2 separate regions of the Homo sapiens genome follow, and region 2 is linked to region 1. A link means that fine-mapping ties the variant in region 1 to the expression of a gene that starts in the linked region. Tissue or cell type: whole blood. Region 1 holds a variant in brackets; the other region holds the start of a gene. All regions are shown on one strand. Distances are between the middles of the regions.

Region 1 (5,528 bases):
TATCTATCTTCAGTAAACTTTTTATTGAAGTATAACTTTTTTTAAATGCACAAATCCAGGCCAGGCGTGGTGGCTCACACCTGTAGTACCATCACTGCGGGAGGCTGAGGCGAGTGGATCACTTGAGCCCAGGAGTTCAAGACCAGCCTGGGAAACATGGCGAAACCCCATCTCTACCAAAAATATATATATATATGTATATGTATATATATACGTATATATATATATATGTATATGTATATATATACGTATATATATACATATATATACACACACAAAGAAAATTAGCCAGGCATGGTAGCATGCACCTCTAATCCCAGCTCCTTGGAAGGCTGAGTTGGGAGGATTGCCTCAGCCCAGAAAGTGGAGGCTGCAGTGAGCCGAGATTGCGCCACTGCACTCCAGCCCGGGTGACAGAGTGAGACTCTGTCTCAAAAATAAAAACAAAAATAAATAAATGCACTAATCTAAAGTGTGCAGCTAGATGAATTTCCACAAAGTTAATACATCTGTGTAACCAGCACCCAATCAAGAAACAGAATATTACCTCCCTCAGTAAGACCCCAGGTACCATTTCCTCCTATTTTTCCTTCACCCTCACCAAGTGGAACCACTCTCCCAACTTTTAACCCCATAGATTAGTATGGTCTGACTTTGGGCTTTATATAAATGGAATAATTTAGTATGTACCTTTTTTGTCTGGCTTCTTTTGCTTCATATTTTGTTTGTGAGCTGTATTTATGATGTTGTAGCCCATTCTCATTGCTGTATTGTATTACGTTGAACAAATATACCACTATCCTACTGCTGGTGGACATTTGGGTTGTTTCAAGGATGAGGCTTTTATGAATAATGTGGCTGTTTTAACACTCTTGTGACACTATCTTTTTAATGAAGTGAACTACACACAAAATTTTATTTCACTTGCATTTTTTGTCTTCCTTTATAGAACACTGTTGGAGAATGGCAAACCGTGTTCTATATTGCTGCTGCTATTAATGTTTTTGGTGCCATTTTCTTTACACTATTCGCCAAAGGTGAAGTACAAAACTGGGCTCTCAATGATCACCATGGACACAGACACTGAAGGAACCAATAAATAATCCTGCCTCTATTAATGTATTTTTATTTATCATGTAACCTCAAAGTGCCTTCTGTATTGTGTAAGCATTCTATGTCTTTTTTTAATTGTACTTGTATTAGATTTTTAAGGCCTATAATCATGAAATATCACTAGTTGCCAGAATAATAAAATGAACTGTGTTTAATTATGAATAATATGTAAGCTAGGACTTCTACTTTAGGTTCACATACCTGCCTGCTAGTCGGGCAACATGAAGTAGGACAGTTCTGTTGATTTTTTAGGGCCATACTAAAGGGAATGAGCTGAAACAGACCTCCTGATACCTTTGCTTAATTAAACTAGATGATAATTCTCAGGTACTGATAAACACCTGTTGTTGTTCACTTTCCTCATAAAAATTGTCAGCTCTCTCTGACACTTAGACCTCAAACTTTAGCATCTCTGTGGAGCTGCCATCCACTGTATAATTTCGCCTGGCAACTGGACTGAGGGGAGTGTGCCCAGGCAGCTGCCAAGCACTCCCTCCCTGGCTTCAGGGTCAGAGTGCCCAGCGTTTATCAGAGGCAGCATCCAAGCCCAGAGCCAGTGTCGACTCTTCGGCTGGTGCCTTTCCTCTGAGGGGCTATCAATGTGTAGATAAAGCCCTGAGTAGGCAAGAGCAGTGAGATCCACTGCTATGGTCTTGATACATCCTCAAACTTTCCCTTCCCAGCACAGAGGAATATTGGCTGGCATGCAACCTGCAAAAGAAAAATGCGAAGCGGCCGGGCACGGTGGCTCATGCCTGTAATCCCAGCACTTTGGGGGGCTGAGGTGGGCGAATCATGAGATCAGGAGTTCGAGACCAGCCTGGCCAGCATGGTGAAACCCCATCTCTACTAAAAATACAAAAAATTAGCTGGGCGTGGTGACGGGCGCCTGTAATCCCAGATACTCAGGAGGCTGAGGTAGGAGAATCACTTGAACCTGGGAGGTGGAAGTTGCAGTGAACCAAGATCACGCCACTGCACTCCAGCCTGGGCGATGGAGCGAGACTCCAACTCAAAAAAAAAAAAAGAATAAAGAAAGAAAAGTGCGATGCCCAGTCAATCACAAATAAGATCATCCTGGTTTAAATCTACTCTCACATGGATCACAGTATAAATTTCTATGTGCTGTGTTTTGTTCGTTTGTATTTTGTAGAGATGGGGTCTCGTTTTGTCGCCCAGGCTGGTTTTGAACTCCTGGCTTCAAGCGATCCTCCTGTCTCGGCCTCACAAAGTGTTGAGACTACAGGCATGAGCCACTGTGCCCAGCCTGTTCTATGTTTTTAAGCTACACGAGAATTTTTTTTTTAATTAATTCTCACTGTTTGTTCAGTCTGTCTTCATCTAAGTTTGTGTTGCAGTTTAAAGTTAAAGTGACTTTTAAAGGCCACATCACCTGAGACTAGGGTAATCATCTTTACTTCTGGTTCCTGAAATCATATTTTTCCAGTGGACCATCCTCCAGTGGCTGTGGTTGTTGAGCATGCTTTCAGAACACCTATGTGGCTTAAAACTTAGTTTATGTTTTGTGTTCAACACTA[C/T]GTGTAATATTTTAAAACTGTTTAATGTGATGTGAATACATTTATGTACATTTATTTTTAAATTTGTAAATAGCTTTAAATTGCTATGGCAATGTTTCTTTTATAAATCATCAAAATAAACCTTTGTGAATTGATTTTTGGATCTGACAGTTCTGTGATGTTTCCTAGTGTCCACAGTGACTCTTTGACATCTTTTCTGCATCCTGCTCGAGCCATCGTCTTCTCTACACACATTTCTGCTACCACAAAGCCGAGGAACTTGGGCCTCCTAAGGGATACAGCATCAGAAATCTCTGTTGCCATCAACCTGCCCTTCCTAGCTCTGAATAGAGTCAGTCCTTCTTGCTATAGCATATGCCCACACTACACTGATTCTCTCTCTCCCACCTCCTCTAAGGACTTGCTTCAGTAATTCTTTTTTTAAATAATTGAGACAGGGTCTTGCTTTGTTGCCCAAGCTGAGCTCAAGCGATCCTCCTGCCTCAGCCTCCCAAGTAGCTGGCACTACACAGCATGTGCTATCACGCCCAGTTAGGAGCTCCTCTTTCATTTACTTCTTCAGTCTCTCCCCTTATTCTTTTCCTTCTATCTCAGAGATACACACGTCTTCTCTAGTCCTTAAATAAAAATACAGAAGTCTCCTGGAGACATTAAATCACAAGTGTACAGAATATCTCTAAGATAATACTCAAGAAACTGGAAAACAGTGTGTGATTTTATAGATAGATATAGATACAGATATAGATTTTCATCCATGGTTCGAGGCTCATAACTCCCGTAGCTCTTGTTATGTTGAGCGCCTTTAGCCCTTAGAAGTAGCCTCAGGAAACAGAATCTTTCTGATCCTCTCCTCTCCTCCTTTCACCTGCTGCTTTTTCTCCCAAGGCAGGAATCTTCCCCCACCTTTCTGTCTTGGAACTGGTCATAAAGAAATTCTGTGGCTGGGGAGGTGGCTCACACCTGTAATCCCAGCACTTTGGGAGGCTGAGGCGGGCGGATCACAAGGTCAGGAGTTCGAGACCAGCCTGGACAATATGGTGAAACCCCGTCCCTACTAAAAATACAAAAATGAGCCAGGCGTGGTGGCGGGCGTCTGTAGTCCCAGCTACTCGGGAGGCTGAGGCAGGAGAATCACTTAAACCCGGGAGGTGAAGGTTACAGTGAGCCGAGATTGCACCACTGCACTCCAGCATGGGTGACAGAGTGAGACTCCGTCTCAAAAAAAAAAAAAAAAATTATGTGGCCTACCTTGTTGGACTGTAGGTCATAAGACCCCATGCCCACGTTTGAGAAGAGGTCCTCTCCATACCCTGGAGGAAGGAATGCTGCACAGAGAGGCCAAGAAGAATCTGGACAGGACTTGGTGGGTTTCCCTCTGAGTCTATTAGTGTTAGATCACACCCTTTCTGTCCAATCACATTTCTACATGGTTGTTAATCATGACTATCCAATGAAGTCTCCATAAAAGGCCTAATAAGACAGGGTTTGGGGAGGCTACTGATAGCTGAACACATGGAGGTTCCTGGAGGGTGGCACGCCCAGAGAGGGCATGGAAGTTCCTCATCCCTTTCCCCAGACATTGCCCTGTGCATCTCTTCATCTGTGTCCTTTGTAATATCCTTTATAGTAAATGATAAACATAAGTGTTTCCCTGAGTTCTTCGAACCACTCTAGCAAATCGATTGAACCAAAAGAGGCAGTTGTGAAAACCTCAACTTGAAGCCAGCAGGTCACAAGTTCCAGAACCCTAGACTTGGGACTGGTGTCTCCAGTGGTGGGCAATCCTGGGGACTGGGCCTTCAACCTGTGGAATCGGATGCTACCTCCAGGTAGACAGTGTCAGTACTGAATTGGGAGACACCCAGTCGGTGTCTGTTGCAGAACTGATTGCTTAGTTGGTGTGTGAGGAAAAACCCACACCCTTTTAATCACAGAAGTCTTCTGTGTTTATTGTTGAATGAGAGATAAGAAAAAAACACATTTGGGCCGGGCGCGGTGGCTCACGCCTGTAATCCCAGCACTTTGGGAGGCCGAGGCGGGTGGATCACGAGGTCAGGAGATCGAAACCATCCTGGCTAACATGGTGAAACCCCACCTCTACTGAAAATACAAAAAAATTAGCCAGGCATGGTGGCAGGTGCCTGTAGTCCCAGCTACTCCGGAGGCTGAGGCAGGAGAATGGCATGAAGCCGGGAGGCGGAGCTTGCAGTGCGCTGAGATCGCGCCACTGCACTCCAGCCTGAGCGACAGAGTGAGACTCCGTCTCAAAAAAGAAAAAGAAAAAGAAAAAAAACACATTTGGCCCGCCGTGGTGGCTCACGCCTGTAATCCCAGCACTTTGGAAGGCTGAGGCAGGCAGATCACCTGAGATCAGAAGTTCGAGACCAGCCTGACCAACATGGAGAAACCCTGTCTCTACTAAAAAATACAAAATTAGCCGGGCATGGTGGCACATGCCTGTAATCCCAGCTACACGGGAGGCTGAGGCAGGAGAATCGCTTGAACCCAGGAGGCAGAGGTTGCGGTGAGCCAAGATCACGCAATTGCACTCCAGCCTGGGCAACAAGAGCGAATCTCAGTCTCAAAAAAAACAAAAAAAAAAAAAACAAAAAAAAAAAAACACAGTTTGAGTAGATTTTTCCACAAACAACGGTTACCTCTATAGAGATAAAATCAGCAACTAGGGATAGGAAGGACAATTAATTTTCACTTTACCAAATGTGGCAGTATGACCTATTCAAATAAATATATTGTTTCATTTATTTATTTATTTTCAGACGGACACTTGCTCTGTTGCCCAGGCTGGAGTGCAGTGGCGCGATCTCTGCTCACTGCGACCTCCACCTCCCAGGTTCAGCGATTCCCCTGCCTCAGCCT
Region 2 (5,000 bases), 61 kb before region 1:
ATAAAAATAAATGATTGAATAAGTAAATAAATGTAGGAGAATAAACAAATCTCCCAAACAAAAGAATTCTTCCCCTGAAACTGGTGGAGTATAGATAACTCCCCACCCCTTAAGTGAAGGCTGCACATACTGATTTCCTTCCAAAGAGAAAAGTAAGGCCGGGGGAAAAGAGTTAACTTCACAGTGAAAACACCTGACAAACACAACCTCAGGCATGCAATGAGGCTTACCATCACTACTGATAAACATCAGTGATAAATAAGTTGACAGCACATTCCCTTGACATTACATGATGAGAATGGCCCTTTACCTCTATGACCTTTCCCTCAAAAATCCATAACCCCAGTCTAATTATAAGAAAAACATTCAGGCCGGGGGTGGTGGTTCATGCCTGTAATCCCAGCACTTTGGGAGGCTGAGGCAGGTGGAGGCTGAGGCAGGAGGTCAGGAGATGGAGACCATCCTGGCTAACATGGTGAAACCCCATCTCTACTAAAAATACAAAAAATTAGCCGGGCGTGGTGGCATGCACCTATAGTCCCAGCTACTCGGGACGTTGAGGCAGGAGAATCGCTTGAACCTGGGAGGTGGAGGCTGCAGTGAGCCGAGATCGTGCCACTGCACTCTAGCCTGGACGACAGAGCGTGACCTCGTCTCAAAAAAAAATTCGACAACCCAAATTAAGACACTTTCTACAAAACCTACCAGTACTCTACAAAACTGTCAAGGTCAGCAAAAGCAATGAAAGTCAGGAACTGTCGATCTAGAGGAGCCTAAGGAGACATGTAATGTGGCATCCTGGATGAGATCCTGGGACCGAAAAAGGATATTAGGTAAAAATTAAAGAAACGCAAATTAAGTATGAACTTCAGTTAATAATTATCTATACTGGCTCGTTAGTTATGATATATGCATGATACTAATGTAAGATCTTAATAATAGGTCAAACTAAGCAAAGGGTATGGAGAACTCACTGTACTATCTTTGCAACGTTTATGTAAACCTAAAATTTCTAAAATAAAAAATATTAAAAAAAAGAATTCCTCTGGTTTGAAGTCTTTCAAGTCTGTTGCAACTATATTCCCTGGCCCAAGTTATCTATAACCTTGGTCATCTGGGAGCTTGTTAGCAATACAGAATCTCAGGCACATCCCAGATGTACTGGGCTTCTCAGAGAAACAGCCCCAATTGGGTAGTTTGGGTAATAAAGTTTTGGCTTTCACAATATAGGCTGGCCAACTCGACCCAAAACAGATGATGGTGCACATGCCTGGAGACCCAGGAGGACCTGTGGTGCAGATGAAGTCTGAGGACACTCTGCTGGAGAAGTCTCCCTTGCTTGGGCAAGAGAAGTGGGGGAGTCGGATTTTTTATTCTAGATAGGCCTTCAACTGATTGAAGGAAGCCCACCCAGATTATGGAAGGCAGCCATCTTTACCCAGAGTTCAATGATTTTAGTGTTAACCTCATCCAAAGACAACCAGCAAGTTAACACATAAAATTAACCATCACACCAGATCTGCTGAATCTGAATCTACATTTTAAAAGGATTTGCCAGGTGACTCTGCATAATCCAGTTTGAAAATTGCATTTTTCTACAACCCTTAGAGAGTGTAAAAATCTACATGGTAATTCAGTAACTCAGAAACAAGGCTTGATTTGCTGCTTTAACTTGAGAACTTTTCTAGCATTTACTGATCTGGAGGTAGGGATGCCTACAGAAATCCTCGCCCTCCCTTCTAGGTAAAGGACCCTCCCCTTTGTTCTCACGTGAACCTCACTAAGCTTCTAACCTGGTTTACTGAATTAGTGGCTTGTGGGTCTTCCCTGTCTACACCAAACTCTCCGAGAGCATCTACATCTTATTTTCTACCTCCACAGAGACAGCCTTTATTGGCGGATCCAGATCTGCCCTGCCAAGGCAAGCTGGGTTTTCCTAGTTTCACTTTCAGAGTCCGCAAATGCTAGCACAATCTATCCAAATTCTATCGTGGAGATAAAGCATGCACACATACATCAGAGGATTCCATAGGTCGAACCATATGAAACTACCTATGTTGATTACTTTTACCTATAAAACCAGCAACATCATAGGACTCAACAAATTTCCATTGCTGTTTTTCCGCCTAAAAGCTATTTTAGGACCAGGAGCAGTGGCTCACGCCTGTAATCCCAGCACTTTGGGAGGCCGAGGAGGATTGCTTGAGCCCAGGAGTTCGAAACCAGCTTGGGCAATATAATAAGACCAAGCCTCTACAAAAATAAAAAGTAGAAACAAAATTAGCCAGATGTGGTGGCATGCTCCTGTAGTCCCAGCTACTTGGGGGAGCTGAAGAGAATCGCTTGAGTCCAGGAGTTGGAGGTTGCAGTGAGCTGCGATTGCGCCACTGCATTCCAGCTTGGGCAACAGAGCAAGACCCTGCCTGGGAGAAAAAAAAAAAAAAAAAAAAGCTATTTTAGGGACAATATGCCGCCACAGTCACGAGGTAAATATGCCGCCACAGTCACGAGGTAGATCGTACAAAGGTTGCTAACAGTATGGCAACTGACCGCTAACAAGCGAATGTCAAGTTGTGAAATGCACACCACCCACTTCCCTAGTTCGGTCGAAGCCCTCCCCTTAATTATGTGCAATTCAAGTCCCCACTGCCCGCCCGCAAGCCCCCACTCATCCTCGCTGCGGGCAGGGTGGCCCCTGCACTTTACAAGGGGGTGCAGGAGCGGGAGACGGTCGTCCGAACACCGGCTCCCCGGCATGCGTAGACCGGCGGGCGGAGCGGGCTCACTTTGCGCCAATCCTACGAGAACTCCCAGAACTCCGCTTCCCTAGTCCAACCCAAGCCAGAGTTGCCCACACCTAAGATGGCGGCGGGGGCGGAGTCGGCGCGGCCGCCTCTGGGCGGGACCGCGGGGACTAGACGTGGCCGCGGGGCGGTGTCATCGCCCCCGCCCCGCCCGGTCCAGCCAGCTCGGCCCGGGGGCTTCGGGCTGTCGGGCCGGCGCTCCCTTCTCTGCCAGGTGGCGAGTACACCTGCTCACGTAGGCGTCATGAGGTCTCCGGTTCGAGACCTGGCCCGGAACGATGGCGAGGAGAGCACGGACCGCACGCCTCTTCTACCGGGCGCCCCACGGGCCGAAGCCGGTAAGCGGCGGGGTCGTCCAGGGGCTTCGAGTGGGCAGCGGTACCGGGGGCGGCGGTCTCTGGGCCGGCATGGCCCGGGTACCCGCACCCTGCGCCGGCGGGACCGGAGCTGCTCAGGCGCGAGGGGACATTAAGAGGGGAGCCCGTTCAGAGTGCCGCTCAGTCCCGCCTGCCTCGGTGCGCAGAAGCCCCTCGGGAACCCCGGGGGCCGCGACCGTGATCGCGGAGCCGAGCCGGGGCCTCGGCAGGTGCAGCCCCACCGGGCGGGGGCGGGGGCGGGGGCGGGGGCGGGGGAGCGGCGGTGCAGCCGGCGCTGAGCTGGTGGTTATTTTGGGTAGTGCTGAGCAAGGGACCCAGTGGAAGAACGAACTGGGAGAGAATCATCAAATGAATGGGCTAAGGTCCGAGCGGAGGACCCCGGTGTAAGAGCAAACTGGAGGAGAAACCTGCAGATCAGTAGGCAGAGGGCTGTCCTTCCCTGTCACCGCTAGGTTTCCGCCACTGCGTATCCGCCAGCATGTGACCTGGTAGCTTCTTAGGCGGGGAGGGAAGACAAAAAAGGACTGGAGTTAACATTTGTGAGTATGCAGAGGGCAACTATTGTATAACCCAGCTGATATCTTGACATTGTGCAGTAAGAGACTAAAAACATCGAGGACATTTTTTTTCCGTCTGGCAGTCTATGATTTAAGTTAGGAAAAGGTTCAGTTATCCTCAAGATACCTATGGAGTTCTAAAGTAATTTGCCAAAGGTCTTGGAACAAATCGAAAAGCAGGTACGTCATAAAGCATCTTCCCTGAATTTGAGAAAATTAAAATATTTTGCTATTTGACACTTTTGTAATATAGTTTATTTAAAAGTAACGAAAACTAAAGAACAAATCAGTTTGAATGCATTCTATAGTTTCAAAGATCTGTGCGTGAGAAAGAGTTGTGTTGGAAATTTGACTTTGGCTAACCCAGAATTGTATAGTTTCTATATTTTTATTTGTTTTTAATGTTACCAGATGGTGGCAGTAGAGGTGGCAACCTTATAGCTCCATCTGGCAGCCGGGAGCTTATTTTAGTCAACACAAACTGTAAATACCATACCATAGTTACGTTTTACCTGGAAGTCGGACTTAGTTCCATAAACTGATCATTTTCTGTGGCTTGTAGTGTTCAAATTGTATAATATTCCTCATAAAATAATATAGAAATACAGAAATAAAAGTTATAATAAAGATATTTGCCAGAGATTATTACATTGTTACAATTGAAAAATATGTATATGTATAATCAAAATTTAGCACAAATGTTAAACATTATTCTCAGGAAAATGCAGATTAAAATTACAACGAGGCACTATACACCCACTAGAATAGCTAAAATCCAAAAGGCTGATAATACCAAATGTTAGCAGAGATGTGGATAGAAAAGTTATACATCTCAATAAAGATTGAGATGGACAAATGTATACATTTATCACGTAAATTATACTTCAATAAAGTTGATTTTTAAAAAAGTAGCTTATAGCATCCCTTTTAAAAACAATCCCTACTTGATTCATGTGTTGAGTGTATGGATCTTATGGTACTGGCCCTGTCCTTCCTGGCTTTAGGTGGCTACGTTTGTTACAACCATTTCCTTTTTTATTTTCCCTCTTTACATACCCACTGGAGAGCAAGTGAAGTGGAAATAATAGTAACATACTGTTTTTGCTATTTAGAATATGATAAGTTTTATAGAGAAGGAGCATATATGGCAATTAAGAGAAGTATATAATGAGCCCCCATGTAACCAGCACCCAGATTAAAGTTATCAATTCATGGCCAGTCTTGCCTTATGCTCATACATACTGTGTATTTTGAAGCAAATC

Evidence for each region. PIP is the estimated chance that this variant, and not a neighbour inherited with it, causes the effect.
Region 2: it holds the start of SLC17A5, and the variant in region 1 is fine-mapped to the expression of SLC17A5 in whole blood (TOPMed, PIP 0.99).

What each region holds. Positions count from the first base shown.
Region 1 is chr6:73,590,636-73,596,163 of GRCh38, reverse strand. It overlaps SLC17A5 (solute carrier family 17 member 5), which reads left to right. Exons shown (of 11, transcript NM_012434.5): 11 at 950-2,785. The coding sequence ends at 1,087. Among named protein-coding and RNA genes, the nearest start is that of SLC17A5, 61 kb to the left of the region's middle. The variant C/T (reference allele first, on the strand shown) is at 2,652.
Region 2 is chr6:73,651,935-73,656,934 of GRCh38, reverse strand. SLC17A5 (solute carrier family 17 member 5) reads left to right here and starts at 2,943. Exons shown (of 11, transcript NM_012434.5): 1 at 2,943-3,142. The coding sequence starts at 3,049. RefSeq lists an enhancer at 1,739-1,828 and a silencer at 2,828-3,497.